Linked DNA regions of Homo sapiens: region 1 is linked to region 2. Evidence: fine-mapped expression QTL. A gene starts in region 2. The other region holds a variant in brackets. All regions are shown on one strand. Distances are between the middles of the regions. Region 1 overlaps HHAT (hedgehog acyltransferase). Region 2 holds the start of HHAT (hedgehog acyltransferase).

What was found. PIP is the estimated chance that this variant, and not a neighbour inherited with it, causes the effect.
Region 1: its variant is fine-mapped to the expression of HHAT in whole blood (INTERVAL, PIP above 0.99).

Annotation. Positions count from the first base shown.
Region 1 is chr1:210,402,686-210,411,024 of GRCh38, reverse strand. HHAT (hedgehog acyltransferase) reads right to left here. Exons shown (of 12, transcript NM_018194.6): 6 at 6,346-6,561. Among named protein-coding and RNA genes, the nearest start is that of HHAT, 78 kb to the right of the region's middle. The variant G/A (reference allele first, on the strand shown) is at 4,547.
Region 2 is chr1:210,325,387-210,333,725 of GRCh38, reverse strand. It overlaps HHAT (hedgehog acyltransferase), which reads right to left and starts at 4,824. Exons shown (of 12, transcript NM_018194.6): 1 at 4,622-4,824. RefSeq lists enhancers at 2,966-3,135, 4,248-4,607, 5,482-5,651 and a silencer at 4,768-5,017.

The DNA.
Region 1 (8,339 bases), 77 kb before region 2:
ACATTTTGTCATGCATTGGCTTCTTAATAATGACTTACCTACTTTTCACAAGCTAAAACTTCCCTACCAGGTATAATAAGGCATAATTACATGTCACTACAGGACCAAAAGGACTAGACTTTTCTCTGCAACACTCCTTTTCTGGTGCTGACTGCCTCCCTGCTCCAAGCAACAGAAATGTTTATTAATTGCACAAATAAGCCAGGCATGGTGGCTCATGCGTGTAATCCCAGCACTTAGGGAGGCCAAGGCGGGCGGATCACTTGAGGTCAGGAGTTCAAGACTAGCCTGGCCAACAGGGTCAAACCCTGTCTCTACTAAAAATACAAAATTAGCTGGGCGTGGTGGCAGGTGCCTGTAATCCCAGCTACTCGGGAGGCTGAGGCAGGAGAATCGCTTGAACCTGGGAGGTGGAGGTTGCAGTGAGCCAAGATCGTGCCACTGCACTCTAGCCTGGGTGAAGAGTGAGACTCTATCTTAAAAAAAAAAAAAAAAAAAAAATTTACAAATAAACAACACAGCAAAAGAAAAACAATCCAACTTTCATTCTATTTGCTTTTACTTAAAAAAAAAAAAACAAAAGGTTTTTCATCTTTCTTTAGGGTCATATCATTATTACAGTCCATTTACATCTGCAATCTAGTTGACTGTCTTTTGTTTAAAAAATCCGGCCAGGCATGGTGGCTCACGCCTGCAATCCCAGCACTTTGGGAGGCCAAGGCGGGTGGATCACAAGGTCAGGAGATCGAGACCATTCTGGCTAACACGATGAAACCTCGTCTCTACTAAAAAAAATACAAAAAAATTAGCTGGGCGTGGTGGCTGGCACCTGTAGGCCCAGCTACTCGGGAGGCTGAGGCAGGAGAATGACGTGAACCCGGGAGGTGGAGGTTGCAGTGAGCCAAGATCGCAGCACTGCACTCCATCCTGGGCGACAGAGCCAGACTCTGTCTCAAAAAAAAAAAAATCCAAAATTTGTCCCTTGTCAACCCAGCAGGAAGAACAGACAGACCATATATAGCTCATCTAATGTGCAGGGCGGCTCTCTTGCCTGCATGCAAAGTATTTCATTTAAGACATTTCAAACCTAGGGGACTGCCAAACCTTTAGACCACTGGAAACTGCCACCATGGAAATTGTGAAGTTCAGGCATCACTAAAAAATACACATTAACTCATCTGCAAAGTGCATTTCAAAATGCATTATACTTTAAAACCTAATTTCATGCAAATTGCATAAAAAGGAATAGCTATGCCTTTCTCTTTCTCCCAAATATATTCTGATGATTAAAGATGACAGTTCTCAAAGATGAAAGGTTCTTTTTCTTCATACACGAATAATACATATGTTTGTGAGCACCAAACAAAAGCCCTCCCCAGAGGCAGATATTCAACTGGGCCACCTGGGCCACTAACTTATTAGCTTCTCTCTGCTTGGGTCTAGGAGGCCTTGTGGCAGTTGTTGTATTCCTTTATACTGGTCACAGACCATACCCCTACTCCTAACAAATCATTCCCTAATCAGACCCACATTACTCCCACCCGCTAGCCATCCAGACCAAGGCCAGCAACATCCAGTGAGCTCTCCCAGAACAGCAAGTGGGGCCTGCAGGTGTTGCTGCCACCAAGGCTGGTACTTGGTTCAGCCTGCTTGAGCCTCCAGACCTTCATGTCCACTAGGCCACACTCCATCCCCCTCTAACTCCTCTCACACACCAAGTCAGCGCAACAAGGCTCATGTCTTGATTCCCTTCACTCTATCTGCATTGTAATAGCCTCTCTTTGCCTCTGTTTCCCTGTCTGTAAAGTGGTCATGACAGTATCTCTCTCACAGGTTGTGAGGATTAAACAAGCTAGAATGGCCAGGCACAATGGTGTGTGCCTGTAATCCCAGCACTTTGGGAGGCCGAAGCAAGAGAATCACTTGAGGCCAGGAGTTTGAGACCAGCCTGGGCAACATAGCAAGACCTCATCTCTAGAAAAGTATTTTTAAAAAATTAGCCAGGTGTGGTGATGCATACCTATAGTCCTAGCTACTCAGGAGGCTGAGGTGGGAGGATCACTTGAGCTCGGGAGGCCAAAGCTACAGTGAGCTATGATTGCACCATTGCACTCCAACCTGGGTGTCAGAGTGAGACCATCTCAAACATTTTAAGTTAGAACGTATAAAGCCTGGCTCAGACTAAATGATCACCTAGTATATTTTATTACAATTAGCATGATTCCAGGTGCTCTCTAGAACCAGAGCCCATGCCAAGTACTAAACAAAGCTTCTGGGACATTGACTGCCTTGCACAGCTCTTGCCAGTCCCAGCAACTCTTGGACTGCCCCCATCCCTTTCCTGCAGCAGCTGCCTGGGTCTCTCTTCAAATAGATGGAACCAGCACACTGGCCTCTTCTGAGCCCAAGCATGGCCATGGCCCAGAGTCCCCTGCTGCTGTGCCTGCCTACCAGACTGGATACCCAGGGTCTCACTTCTGACCTAAACTACCCTAGAATTACACTTGCTTTCTGGCCAATCATCACAATAATAAAAGTAAGAGGCCGAGCATGGTGGCTCACACCTGTAACCCCAGCACTTTAGGAGGCCGAGGCGGGCGGATCACCTGAGGTCGGGAGTTCAAGACCAGCCTGGCCAACATGGTAAAACCCCATCTCTACTAAAAATACAAAAATCAGCTGGGTGCGTTGGTGCACGCCTATAATTCCAGCTACTTGGGAGGCTGAGGCACAAGAATCACTTGATACCAGGAGGTGGAGGTTGCGATGAGCTAAAGTTGTGCCACTGCACTCCAGCCTGGGCAACTGAGCCAGACTCTGTCTCAAATAATAATAAGAGTAAGAATTAACACTTTATAGTATTAACCTGTCAAACCACATTACCTATACACAATCATTTAATCCTCACAGCAATCCTGAGGGAGGCACTATTATTCTTCCCATTTCACTGATAAGAAGACTGAGGCATAAGTAAGGTAAGTAACTCAGCAAGCACTCTCAAGCCGAAGCACAGCAGGGATTCAAACCCTGGAGGGTGGGCTCCAGGACCTTTGCTCTCAACCTCCATGCCAAATTCCCTATTTGACCACTGGCTTCTCTAAGGTGGGAGAGCACAGTGCCCAGCAAGGAAGAGTCCCTGGCCCACCACCCTAAGGCTGCTCTTCTCCCCAGTGCCCACACCACACCAGTCAACCTCTTCAAGACGTAGTGGCCCCAGGCTTCAGGCTAAGCAAGTAAACACCATGTCCTTCCCTTCCCTAAGTCCCCCAGGATCCCTGTCTCACCGCTGACTTGGTATCCGAGTTCCACAGAAACGTGAGAGAAAAACAAATCAGGCCCATGTTCCTAAAACTCTAAATGCCACCAGAAATAGCCTTCAAGTTAAGGCACAGAGGCAAATTTTTACCTGTTCGTGACTAATTATGCAAATTTCACATGCTTTACATTGCAGAAGACAACGCTTCTATACCTCCCTCATTTTGTGTATGTAAATTGGGTGGAAGACACATTCTCCAGGTGTATGCCTAAAACTAACATTGTCATTTGATCTTTTGGAGTTTGCAGATACTGGGTGAAGATTTCCCGCTGGGGTTGGTTTCCACAATGGGGCACTGCTGCCCCCTGGTGGTGCAGCGTCATTCTCCTGCTCTACGTTATTTTTATGCATTGACCTGCCAGTCTAAGAACCATGCATTTCAATATTTCCAATCCTTATAGCTGAAGGCATTTCATGCATGCATTCATTCAAGCATTCATTCAGAGCAAATCTTACTTACTAGTTCTTCCAACTAGCTTTCTTTCTCCACCTCCCAGCCTTTTCCTTTTTGGCTTCTCTGAAAGAACCCTTTCACTGCAAGATAAGCTTTTTGGTTTAACCCCCTGCCCCTTTAAAGCCCCCTTCCCCACAGAAGGGAAGTTCCCCACAGCCACCTTCAGCAAGTGCAGAAACCTCCTGGCTTTTTAAATTTGCCCTATATCTTACTGAACATTTATCCTTTTCTAGAATGACTATTCTATGAATACTCCCCCAAACATAGAGGTTTTAATTTGCCCTTTCAAGTTCCCTGCTGTCAGCAATTGCTATTGTTTTAGAAGGGGTTAAAAAAGAAGAGAGAGAGAGGGAAGGAAAAGACATGGATAAAACCCAGAGTGTCTATACCTGGCCCCTACAGGAAGCAACCTGCCCCTTCACTTCCCCAGAATGAGACTCAAGAGAATGAGAACCCTTGGCTAAGGATTTAGGTGGAAGATAATCTTAAAGCGTGCCTCTGTGTGACACAGGACCCTGCTAGAGGCCTCTAATATTCTTACTAGACCCTAAAAGGCACAATTTGAAAAGGGAGGCCAGGCTCAAGCCTGTAATCCTAGCACTTTGGGAGGCTGAGGGCAGATTGCCTGACCTCAGGAGTTAGAGACAAGCCTGGGAAACATAGCAAAACCCGGTCTCTACTAAAAATACAAAAAATTAGCTGGACTTGCTGGTGCATGCCTGTAATCCAGCTACTCAGGAGGCTCAGACACGGGAATCACTTGAACCCAGGAGGTG[G/A]AGGTTGCAGTAAGCTGAGATTACACCACTGCACTCCAGCCTGGGTGACAGAGTAAGACTCTGTCTCAAAAAAAAAAAGAAGAAAAAGGAGATGAGAAATAACAGAAACAATTATTTTGCATAATAACAAAGTACAGAGCATACAGGCAAAGCTTATATACAGGAGGAAGTTAGGAAAATAATCTGTTTCCTTCTAATGGATTTAGTTTATGTTTCTCTGAAAATTACCAGCCATCCTCAGGAGAGGGGTGTCTGTGTGTGGATGTTTGGTCCAAAAGTTATTGGCTGGCAAACTGAGAATAATTCAAAAGTTCACAAAGGTAAGGAGATTGTAAAAGAGAGGAACCCACCCTATGCTGTGCCCACCTTACCTTTACTCCCACCCTCCTCCTGGAGGGCCTGTTAAACCACCTTCCTGGGCTTTATCCCTAGAGGCTGTGATTCAGGAGGTTGGAGAGGACCTGAGAATTTGTATTTCTAACAAGCTCTCTGGCGATACTGATGCTGCTGGTCCAGGAACCACACTTTGCAAATCATTGAGTTAGAAGATCAGCTGCCATCATTAAACCATCTCTTTTACACAATAATTTTAAACACAATTTCAAATGCAGATTTTAAATTCCTTCATGACAAAAGAACGATCCCAAACCGAGGTATGAGAAACCATAGACTAAACATATCTGTCTAGAATATCAATTTCACTTACAGATTTCTAGAGATATAAAAAGTTACATACTTTCACTGGAAATTTTAGAACATTATGTTATTGTTATAATGCAAAAATATATTCTTGAATACAATGCATAATTCAGTGGAACTTTGAGGACAAAATAAGATTTCTAAGAACCCTCCTTTTTCAGGGAGCAACTTTCATGTTGCTGCCCAGAAATGTGCAACACTGCTGCTTGCCCTGCCCTTCCAGGTGTGTGCGTATGCGTGGGTATGTGTTCTGCGTGTGCATGCATGTCTGTGTATGCACGTACATGTTATTTTCTCCTCTATGAGGATTGTTTTGTTGGTGAGGGATAGAATATCCCTTGAGAACACTGTTTTAGGCATTTTCAATTACTAATTCCTTAGGTGAATTAACTTAGCAATTATGTTCCATGAAACTAGAGGTAGGTTGAGGAGGCAGAAAAAAAAGAAAGTTCTAAACAAGGGGGAAAAGTGAAGTAGGGGGGAACAACAGAGGTAGCTTAACATGGCATTTCAGACAAGGATGCCGTCCGAGGAAGGCAGGCGGGGGCCTGGGCACAAAGGGGGATCCAGACATGAACACACACCACTGCCTTCGAACTTACTTCAACTCCACTCTGTTTTCACACCTAGGTCACCCTGAACAGCTCCCAGGCTATGGCAGGACTATTTCTTAAGCAGCTTGTGAATATAAAAGGAAACATACTATTTGCCAAGCAACAGCTTAGACAGTTTCCTTTTCTATTCCTTCAAGTAATAGCATCATAATCAAATTTTTTTCTTTCCTTGGGACTTTGCCACAGTGGATACCAACTCCCAAACTCCTTGTTGTGCCCTACTCATTAATCCTGGTTGCCAGAGTTCACTGAAAATCAAGGTGGGACCCCCTAGAGCTGACATATCTGATGGGTCAAACTTTATTTTAAAGGCTCATTTCTCATATGTATTTCATCTATTACAAAAAACCTCATGAGAACTAATAGTATGTGTTGTAAATCTGTGGGCACCTCTGAACAAAACGACTCAAGAGTCAGAGAAGACCAGAGCAACAGCGACAAAGGCTTAAGCTATAGAATCCCAATCCCATCCCCAGCGGGCTCTACCTGTTTGATGAACTCCGAGAAGCTGAGGATGGGCCCATTGTGTAAGACTGGATAATAAAAGACATAGGCCAGCATCCAGGGAAAGGAGTAGGAGGTCGATGCAGCAGGCAGCTGCTGCCAGCAGAGCTCCAGGCTGAAGCTGGTGTAGTACAGGCAGCGAACGGTCAGCGTGAACTGCAGCAGGTAGTACTCGTTTTCTGTCTTGTACCACCTTCTCTACAAAATCAAAAGGAGAGAACAACCTTTGAGTGGCCAGCAGGGACATCGTCCAGTCCCACTGCAGGTGCTGGCCAGCAGGGCCACCGTCATCTGAGAATCCCAGGGGGCTCTGGGAAGGCAATTTCTTCTTCAGGCAGAGCAGCTGTGCCATAAAAGGCAGTCGAGAACCAATGAACACCAGGTAAATCTCATTGGTAATCAAAGCAAGCAGTTAATGAGCAGTAGGAAAAAGGACATCTCTAATGTTAACCTAGCATTAGGTCTGACACAACATAACGAAGGTTTTCCCAGTTAGGCATGTATCAGATACATCCAGGGCATAAGGTGCAGATTAGCTACATCCAGTGGATACTTTGACAGCTTCTTCAACAATTCAGATAACAAAGAGGGGCTTAAAATGTCCCATGGGATTTCTGTCTTCAATGTATTTTTCGTTTTCCTCTTTTGTTATCAGTTTGGCTCTACATTTAGTTGAGTAGCATTTGTCTAATAAGCTTTACAGACAAATATTTAAAAAAAAAAAAAAAAAGTCCCTGCCCTCAATATGTTAAATTCTCATACAGGACGTAGATGTGTAAAAATGCAATTACAATAGAGCATGAAACAAGAAATAACCTGTGCAAAAATATGCATGGAACAAAAAATGAGAAGGAAATACAATAAAATGTTAATATCGGGGAGTAAAATTATGAAGTATTTTCTAATTTCTATATTTTTCTACATTTTCCATGTTTTCCAAAAATACATTTAGTGAGAAAAACTATTTATGGAAATACATACGAGAAATAGAACTTGGGTCAAAGGAGAAAGTAATTAACTTGATCCATCAGGGTCTCTTAAAGCTGTACACAGAAAAACCAACCACTGAACAGAGTTTCTACTTCTTGTACAAGACTTTAGCAGCCACCAAGGGAAAAGAGGATAATCATATCAGGAGAACCACATGTGCAAAAGCATGGAAACCCAGCTAGTTTCTAATCACATGATCTCCTTCCTCAGTGTTTTTCAAATCACTGTAAAATTTGCAGAACAAATGAACATTTATTCACCTCCAACATCTATAACTGATGCTAATTGTCCCCAAATAAATGATAAATGGAATTAGATTCTGTTTGTACACTTGCCAGGTCCCCAAAAGGTTAGGTATGAGCTTGTTTTTATTTTTACTGTAAATCTGTTTTTAAGCACACTTGCCTAAATGGTTGCCTAATCATTCTGGGAAGTATCTTCATTAAAACGGAGTGATTATCTGATATACTCTCATAAGTCCAGATTTTGACATACGTGCTTAAAATGCTAGCCCCACATCATTAATGAGAGTGAGAAAAATGAAGGTAGACTAAAAACAGCAAAAAATACTTGAACTTTCAAAATGCTACAATTTTCACAAAATCACTTAACATAGATTATCCCGTTTGACTCTCAGAACAATCCCATGAGGAAGGAAGAGGATTTATTACTTCTGTTTTCCAAATGATGAGATTGAGGCTCAGAGGTTAAATGACTGCTCCAGCTTCAGAGTAGGAAGAGATGGGGAATAGAATAGACTAGGAACCAGGTCATCCATCTCACATTTCCCATCATGTTCCTTCCCATCACTGTGTTGATGCAGGGCACATGAATGCTAAGTGTTGTCACCTGGATCAATGAATGAGTGACTGAATGAATGAATAAAAAGATACCACAGGAGTTCCAGTCCCACAGTGATTGAAGAAAGAATACCCAACACTGCCCAAGATTTTGAATGTGCCTATGGAGATCCTAGGGGGTTAGAG
Region 2 (8,339 bases):
AGATCATGCCACTGCACTCCATCCTGTGTGACATAGTGAGACGCTGTCTCAGAAAAAAAAAAAAATCATAGTAGTAAAAGCAGCTCTGACGAATGTCACCAGTAAAAGTCAGATACTTTCATACTACTGTGTAGCCTTTGAAAATACTACAAAATACCATTTACATGGGCATCACTACTTTGAAATTACAGGAGTTACTTGCTACTGCACTGAATTTTGTTACTTACTGCATTGATAAAGAAGTACATATACTCATACATTTGGAGCTTTTTTAGTTTTTTCATTTTATTATTATTTTTTAAGAGACAGGGTCTCACTCTGTCATGCAGGCTAGAGTGCAGTGGCCTGATCATAGCTCACTGCAGCCTTGACCTCCTGGGCTCAAGTGATCCTTCCTCCTCAGCCTCCCAAGTAGTTGGGACTACAAGTGATGCTAGCACTGGGGAGTGGCTGCAAATACAAATTAGCATTAAGAGGGAGGTTTGACTACACAGAGACCATAATAAATCAATTGCTTGCAGACTCATATCAAAATCCTATCAGTGAGTGTCAAGTAACAAGTAGCTTAATGCTGCCTGGTGGCAGGCTTTATAGTGGCAAGTGAGTTGATGTACTTCCATCGTACAGCTGCATCTGTGGGCAGGCTTTCAGTCAGAATCCGACACTTATTTTAGTCCACTCATGGCCCGCCCATTATTTACCACTTCCAGGTGTGCCTGTTTCCTGCACTGCACATTTGTCTCAGTCACAGTTTTGGTAAGCCCACAAGCTAACCCTAGCCGAAATGAGTAAAAAACAAACATCACTGGTAAGCTTCTTTGAAAAGGGGGAAGACCCAATGATGAGACAGAAGACTGTAAGATTGCCAACAAAAAGCAAGCTGCATTTAAAAGAAAATACCAGGAGTCATACTCAAATTACAGGTTCATTGCAACAGGTGACTCACATTCTCCAAGCCCACTTTGTGTAATATGTGGCCACTGGCTATCCAATGAAGCCATGAAACCTTCAAAACTGCTTCACCACATGGAGACCAAGCACCCTGCATTAAAAGACAAGGCTTCGGAGTTTTTCAAAAGAAAAAACATAAGCACAAAGAACAGAAGCAATTATTGAAGGCTACCATTTCATCAAATGTGTCTGCAATGAGAGTATCATTCTTAGTGGCTAACCGTATTGCTAAAGCTAAGAAGCCCTTTACTATTGGTGAAGAGTAAACTAGGCGAATTGAAATAGCAGCGGATATTGAGGCACAATTGGTAGAGAGGATTAATGAGTCACTGCGGTACGCAATCTGGGTTGACTAGTCTACCAGTGTTGACAAGGCAACAATGCTTGTTTTTTTGTGATACAGTTTTCAGGAGGATATACATGAAGATGTTAGGTGCACGAGGATATGTCACTTGCACTTTTGTTGCTAACCAACACCACAGCTGCACAACTATTCAAGTCTTTGAATGATTACCTATCAGAAAAACCGAATTGGTCCTTTTGGGTAGTATGTGCTTGGGCAGAGCGACTGCTACGACTGGTTTCACTACTCGGGCCAAAGAGGTCACTTCTGAATGTGAGTCTATGCACTGTGACATCCATAGAGAAGTGTTGGCTAGCCAAAAAATGTCACCTGAACTTAAGAACATTTTGCAGGATGTGATTAAAATTATCAACCACATTAAAGTACATGCCCTTAACTCACATCTGTTCACACAGCTCTGTGAGATGGACATAGAGCACACACATCTTTTATACACAGAAGTGGGATGGCTTTCTAAAGATAGATCACTGGCCGGAGTTTGAGTTATGAGGGCCACTCCAGAGATTTCTTCTAGAAAAGTAGTCACCACTGGCAGCACATTTCATAGAAGGGGTTACAAAACTTGCTTACTTGCTTACCTCCTCAATGAACTCCATCTGTCCCTTCAGGGGAGAACTGTGTTCAAGTCGGCAGATAAGTGGCTGCACTCAAAACCAAACTGGAATTATTGCGGCGACAAGTGAACACTGGGATTTCTGACACGTTTCAAACATTAGCAGAGATTTTGAAAGAGACTAAGCCAGGGCCTTCTCTCTCCCAGCTGGTGCATGATCACCTATCTCAGCTTTCAAAAGAGTTTGAGCATTACTTCCCAACTACAAAAGACACCCGAACTGGGAAGGATCCTAGATCCATTTGTGAATAAGCCAGGTGAATTGACTTTGTCCATGCTAGAAGAGGACCAACTGTTTGAGATAGCAAATGACCGGGCCCTAGAAGTATGTTTAAGACAACTTCAAATATCCATACATTCTGGATTAAAGTCAAGGCAAAGTATCCTGAAATTGCCACAAAAGCACCGAAAAGCCTGCTTCCATTTCCAACATCCTATCTTTGTGAAGCAGGGTCTTCTGCAGTGACAGCAACCAAAATGAGACTATGAAGTAGGCTGGACATAAGCAAACACACTTTGGGTGTCAATGTCTACCAACACACCCCCCCAGATGGGACTGCCTAGTTGCAGAAAAACAAGCTCAGGGGTCCCACTGATTCTACTCTATGGTGAGTTGTATTCATATTACAATGTAATAATAATAGAAATAAAGTCCACAATAAATGTAATGCAGGTGGGGCATGGTGATTCACACCTGTAATCCCAGCACTTTGGGAGGCCAAGGAGAGGATGGCTTGAGCTCAGGAGTTCGAGCTCAGGAATTTGAGACCAGCCTGGTTGACATGGTGAAATCCTGTCTCTACTAAAAATACAAAAATTAGCCAGATGTGGTGTCGCATGCCTGTAAGCTACTCCGGAGGCTGAGGCACGAGAATTGCTTGATCCCCAGAGGTGGAGGTTGCAGTGAGCCAGTATCGTGCCACTGCACTCCAGCCTGGGTGACCCAGCGAGACTCTTGTCTCAAAACAAATAAATAAAATAAATGTAACGTGCTTGAATTATCCCAACACCATCCCCCTTCCCCCAGTCCATGAAAAACTTATTGTCCATGAAACCGGTCCTTGGTGCCAAAAAGGTTGGGGACCACTGCTTTAGGGAACATTCCCCCTGGGCCAGGTCCTAAGCTGGAAGCAGGGGGTGCAGGTAAGGCCCATGCTCGCAAGTTCCTGATGCTACCTACAGAGCTCCCACCAACATCTGGCCACCCACAAAAACGGCTGCTCCCTCCAAAGAATTGACTTTCACCCTAAGTTCATCCATCTAACCTACTTCCAAGGAGGGGGCAAAGTAAACAGTAGATAAAGCACAGGCGTTGATCCAAAAGAGGAGTCCAAAACCCGGCCCTGACATGTACTAGTTTGTGGCTTTGGCTCCCCTCCAAGGCTTTCTCTATCCTACTGTGAAAAGAGATAACAACACTTATCTTTCCCAGTTACTGTAAGGTTTAGAAATAATGTATCTAAAGCACCTAATAAGCACACAGTCTCCTTAAATTAACATTAATTGAATCTCTCAGGTCAGAGCTGTCCTTATCAAACAATCACAATTAGGGACTGACTGGCAACGAGAAAGGAGGGAGAAAAATCACAGGGAAAATGGAACATGAGGAATGGAAGGGGAAAAAAATCATTCCTCAAAGTCTCCTTCAATGAACTACCGCCTCTTCAATGAAGCCTTCCCTCTCCTCTCCTTGCATTCCCATAGCACTTAATCACATTGAAATAGGTCCTTAGCTCTGAGAATGAATGAGATGCCAGGCACGGTGGCTCACGCCTGTAATCCCAGCACTTTGGGAGGTCGAGGTGGGCAGATCACCCGAGGTCAGGAATTCGAGACCAGCCTGGCCAACACGGTGAGACCCTCGTCTCTACTAAAAATACAAAATTAGGTGGGCGTGGTGGCGCATGCCTGTAATCCCAGCTACTCAGGAGGCAAGGCTGGAGAATCGCTTGAAACCGGGATGCTGAGGTTGCAGTGAGCTGAGATTGTGCCATTGCACTCCAGCCTGGGCGACCAGAGCGAAACTCCGCCTCAAAAACACAAACAACAACAAAAACAGAAAGAGAAGCAATGTCTCACTCCCACGTAATGCAAACCTCTGAGGATGCCAAATGCCCTAGCCCTACAACCCTGATCCAAGAGCAATGTACACAGGTAGCAGCACATTTCTTAACACCAATGCTACCCGTAAAGTACCTCTGGTGAGGATTAGCGGGAGGGTTTTTCCGCATAAAGACCTGCCACCTGAAGGTTAGACTCAGAACAGAGGAAGAAAACTGAGTCCTGAAGATAGAACGCAAAGGAAGTCTCTAACTTTAGAGTCCCTGGAGTCACAGCAGGCAGGCAGGCGCACCGCCGATACTGCCAAGAGGACCAGAGTTCGCAACTCCCCGCAGCAGTTCCGGAAGCTGGGGACGAAGCCAAGGAGAGAGGACGTGGGCAGGGCCGTGCGCGGACTTGTCCCGGCGCCTAGATCCCCGCCTTTGCCCGGGCGCACTGCGCGCGCGGCCCCCGCCGCTTTTGTCTTCTTCGCCCGACCGGGAACTTCCTCTGTCCCGCCCTCGGGCGCGCACACGGGAACTTGGGTAGGAAACGGAAAGCGTTTTGTGCATTTTTTTTTTAACAGAGTAAACTGACGCAGAAAATTCAGCATCTAACCTCCCCAGGACCCCCTATGGTCACCAGTTACCAACCTCCGGGCTGTCCCGGGCGGCGGCGACGGCAACGTTCACGCGCGCCGCGAGTTCCCAACACCCCTCTTTCGGCACTTCCGAGTCCCAGCGACATCGGCGGCGGCTGCGGGCTTCCCCGGGACGCCACCCTCTTTCCCCCGGAGCTGCCCTTTGGAGGAGCAGCGCAGCGCGCGTCCTCCGAGCACGCCCCTGCCGCCGTGCCCGCGCGCCCTCCGCGCCCGGACTCGGGAACCCGCGGCGCTCTCCGGGCGATGGCGAGCAGGCCGTGCTGCTGCAGGGGGCGGGCCAGAGCGCGGCCTGCGTTTCTGAACCGCGTTTGCCCCGCCGGCGGCCCGGGGCCCCTAGCCCCGCTCACCCCTCGGCTGTTGGTTCCCACTGACCCTGGCGTGCATATCTCTCCCCCACCCGTGTGTTCATTGCAGGTCTGGGGCTGCCTGCAAGTTAATTGCAGAGTGGAAGTCACCTGAAACTCGAGGTGGGCCGTCATTCCAACACCAGTGGTCCCCACCTACGTTTTGTAGGCGAAAGGAGGTAGTTCGGTGCGGTGGAAAGAGGGTGGGCTTTGCAGCCCTGGCAGCTTCGAGGGCTTACTGTGTGAACTTAGCCCCTGTGAGCCTCCCTGTACACCTCTGTAAAACAGAAATAGACTTCCCTGCTTTTCTTTGTAAATTAGAGTGAAGATCAAATAGAATAAACTTTATGAATTGTAAAGCAACTTACAGAGATCACTACTGCAAAATGGGTACGAAGATTTTGATTGCGTTGTGAAAAGAGTGGAAGATCTGAAGATGCTCCAACGGGGTATAATTGGGACGATGTTGCTGCTCGGAGGCCTCCAAGCCTGAGCCAAGAGACAGGCTTGCCAGAGTTCTCCAGACTTATCTCAGCAGAATCACGTGGCTCTCATTAAAACCTCGGGCTTCTGGATCCCTCCCCAAACCAAAAGCATCAGACTGTCCATGGCAGGGGCGTCTCAGGTGGTTCTATGATAAGGTGAAGGTGGATAACTCTGCCCTAGGCAGCAGGGAAACTCGGAAGCTGTGCTCTCAGAAATTTCATCTAGCAGTCATTGTAATGGTCGAGAGGATTATTTTAATGATTTTAGAATTCTCCAGGAAACCAGAGTATGAACTCTCCAAGAGCTGGAGCTATCTTTTCTTTCTGCTTCCCCCCAACCCACTCACCCCAAAACCTGGTACTGGATGGTGTTCAGTAAGCAGGTGTTAGTAAACTAGCCCCAAATAGGAGTGCCAGATTTAGCAAATAAAAATACAGCATACTCAATTAAAATTGAATTTCAGGCTGGGCGCGGTGGCCCACGCCTGTAATCTCAGCACTTTAGGAGCGGTAGCAGGAGGATCACTTGAGGCCAGGAGTTTGAGACCAGCCTGGCCAACATGGTGAGACCCCGTCTCTACTAAAAATACAAAAATTAGCCGGGTGTGGTGGCCTGCACCTGTAATCCCAGCCACTTGGGAGGCTGAGGCACGAGAATCGCTTGAACCCGGGCGGCAGAGGTTGCAGTGAGCTCAGATCGCACCACTGCACTCCAACCTGGGTGACTGAGCCGGACTCTGTCTCAAAAAAATAAGTAAATAATTTCAGGTGAACAATATGTAACTTTTTAGTATCACTATGACCCATGCAATATTTGGGATATACTTATTTTTTTTAAGTACTTACAGGAAGCTTGTAATCCCAGCACTTTGGGAGGTCGAGGTGAGTAGATAACTTGAATCCAGGAGTTCGAGACCAGCCTGGCCAACATGATGAAACTCCATCTCTACCAAAAAAAAAAAAAAAAAATGGTATATCTGAAATTCAAATTTACATCCTGGGTATCTGAAAATCAAACTTAACTGGGTATTTTATCTGTCAACTCTAGATCCAAGGGTTTGGCAGAGGGAGTGGCAGAATAAGAACTCAACTCAGGTAGTGTCAAACTCAGGGACAGGGATGTGATAACAGCTCCTATATTATTTCTAAAAGATGCTGTTGTTAATATAGGTTCAGTGTGATTTACACTTAACCCCTGTCTACATATGCACTTTAAATTCACCGGCGAACACAAAGGAGATAAAGGCAGATTTAAACACAGGCAATCAGAAACATCAAATAAAAATAGCCAAAATTTATGTGTGTGTGTATATATATATATATATATATATATATATATATGTATGTATTAGAGACAGTCTCACTGTGTCACCCAGGCTAAGCACAGTGGCATGATCTCAGCTCACTGCAGATTCAAGCAATTCTTGTGCCTTAGCCACCTGAGTGGCTGGGATTACAGGCAAGCACCAGCCACCACACCTGGCTATTTAGTAGAGACAGGGTTTTGCCTTGTTGGCCAGGCTGGTCTCGAACTCCTGGCCTCAAGTGATGCACCTGCCTCAGCCTCCCAAAGTGCTGGGATTACAGGTGTGAGCCACCATGCTTGGCCATAATAGCCAAAATTTAAAGATAAGCAATAGACTGGGATATTTGCAAGAAATTTGCAAAGTGTTAATTTTAAAATTATATATAGAGTTAATACAATCAATAAGAAAACATTAGAAATCAATTATAGATGAGCAAGACACATTTATAGACAACCCACTAGAAAAAGGAGGAGGGAAATAAAAGTAGGAAACAAAAATATATTGCAAAAAGCTCAATGAAATGCATAGTAAAACAAGAACATGGTGGCTCACGCCTGTAATCCCAGCACTTTGGGAGGCCAAGGTGGGTGGATCACGAAGTCAGGAGATCAAGACCATCCTGGCTAACGTGGTGAAACCCCGTCTCTACTAAAAATACAAAAACAAAATTAGCCAGGCATCGTGGCGGGTGTCTGTAGTCCCAGCTACTCGGGAGGCTGAGGCAGGAGAATGGCGTGAACCCGGGAGGCAGAGGTTGCAGTGAGCCGAGATCGTGCCACTGCACTCCAGCCTGGGTGACTGAGCAAGACCCCGTCTCAAAAAAAAAAAAAAAAAAAAAAAAAACAAGAACACACAATTTTCACACATTAAGTTGGCAAAAAATTAATAAATAACATTACAGCCTGGCATGGGTGCTATGTGATAGCACTCACACACAATGTTTAGTTGGGTAAGCAATTTGGCAGTATGAAAACTTAAAATTTATCAAAATCTAAGGGAGGTGGGGCAAGATGCCAAATAGAAGCTTCCACCAATTGTCCTCCCTTCAAGAACAACAAAATGAACAACTATCAACAAAAAACACCTTAATAAGAACCAAAGATCAAGTGGGCCATTGCAGTACCAAGTTTTAACTTCATATCACTGAAAGAGGCACTGAAAAGCGTAGAGAAGACAGTCTTGAATTGCAGACGCTACCCCTCCCTCATCCTACAGCAGCAGCTGGGGAAAGATTCTCTCAGATCTTATGCAAGACCACTAAGGTGGTACCTCTGAGTCTGCAAGAGCCGTAGCATTCCTGAGCTTGAGGTGCCCTCTAATGCAGATATGATGGCAGTGACCCAAACCTAAATGACAACACCCAAGTCCCTTAGAATACCTGGAAAGCCTTCCCAAGAAGGATGAATACAAACAAGCCCACCCTGTGAAGACTACAATAAGTACCTAACTCTTCAATGCCCAGACACTGACACACATTCACAAGCATCAAGACCATCCAGGAAAACATGACATCACCAAACAAACTAAATAAGGCATCAATCCCAGAGTGACCTTTCAGACAGAGAATTCAAAAT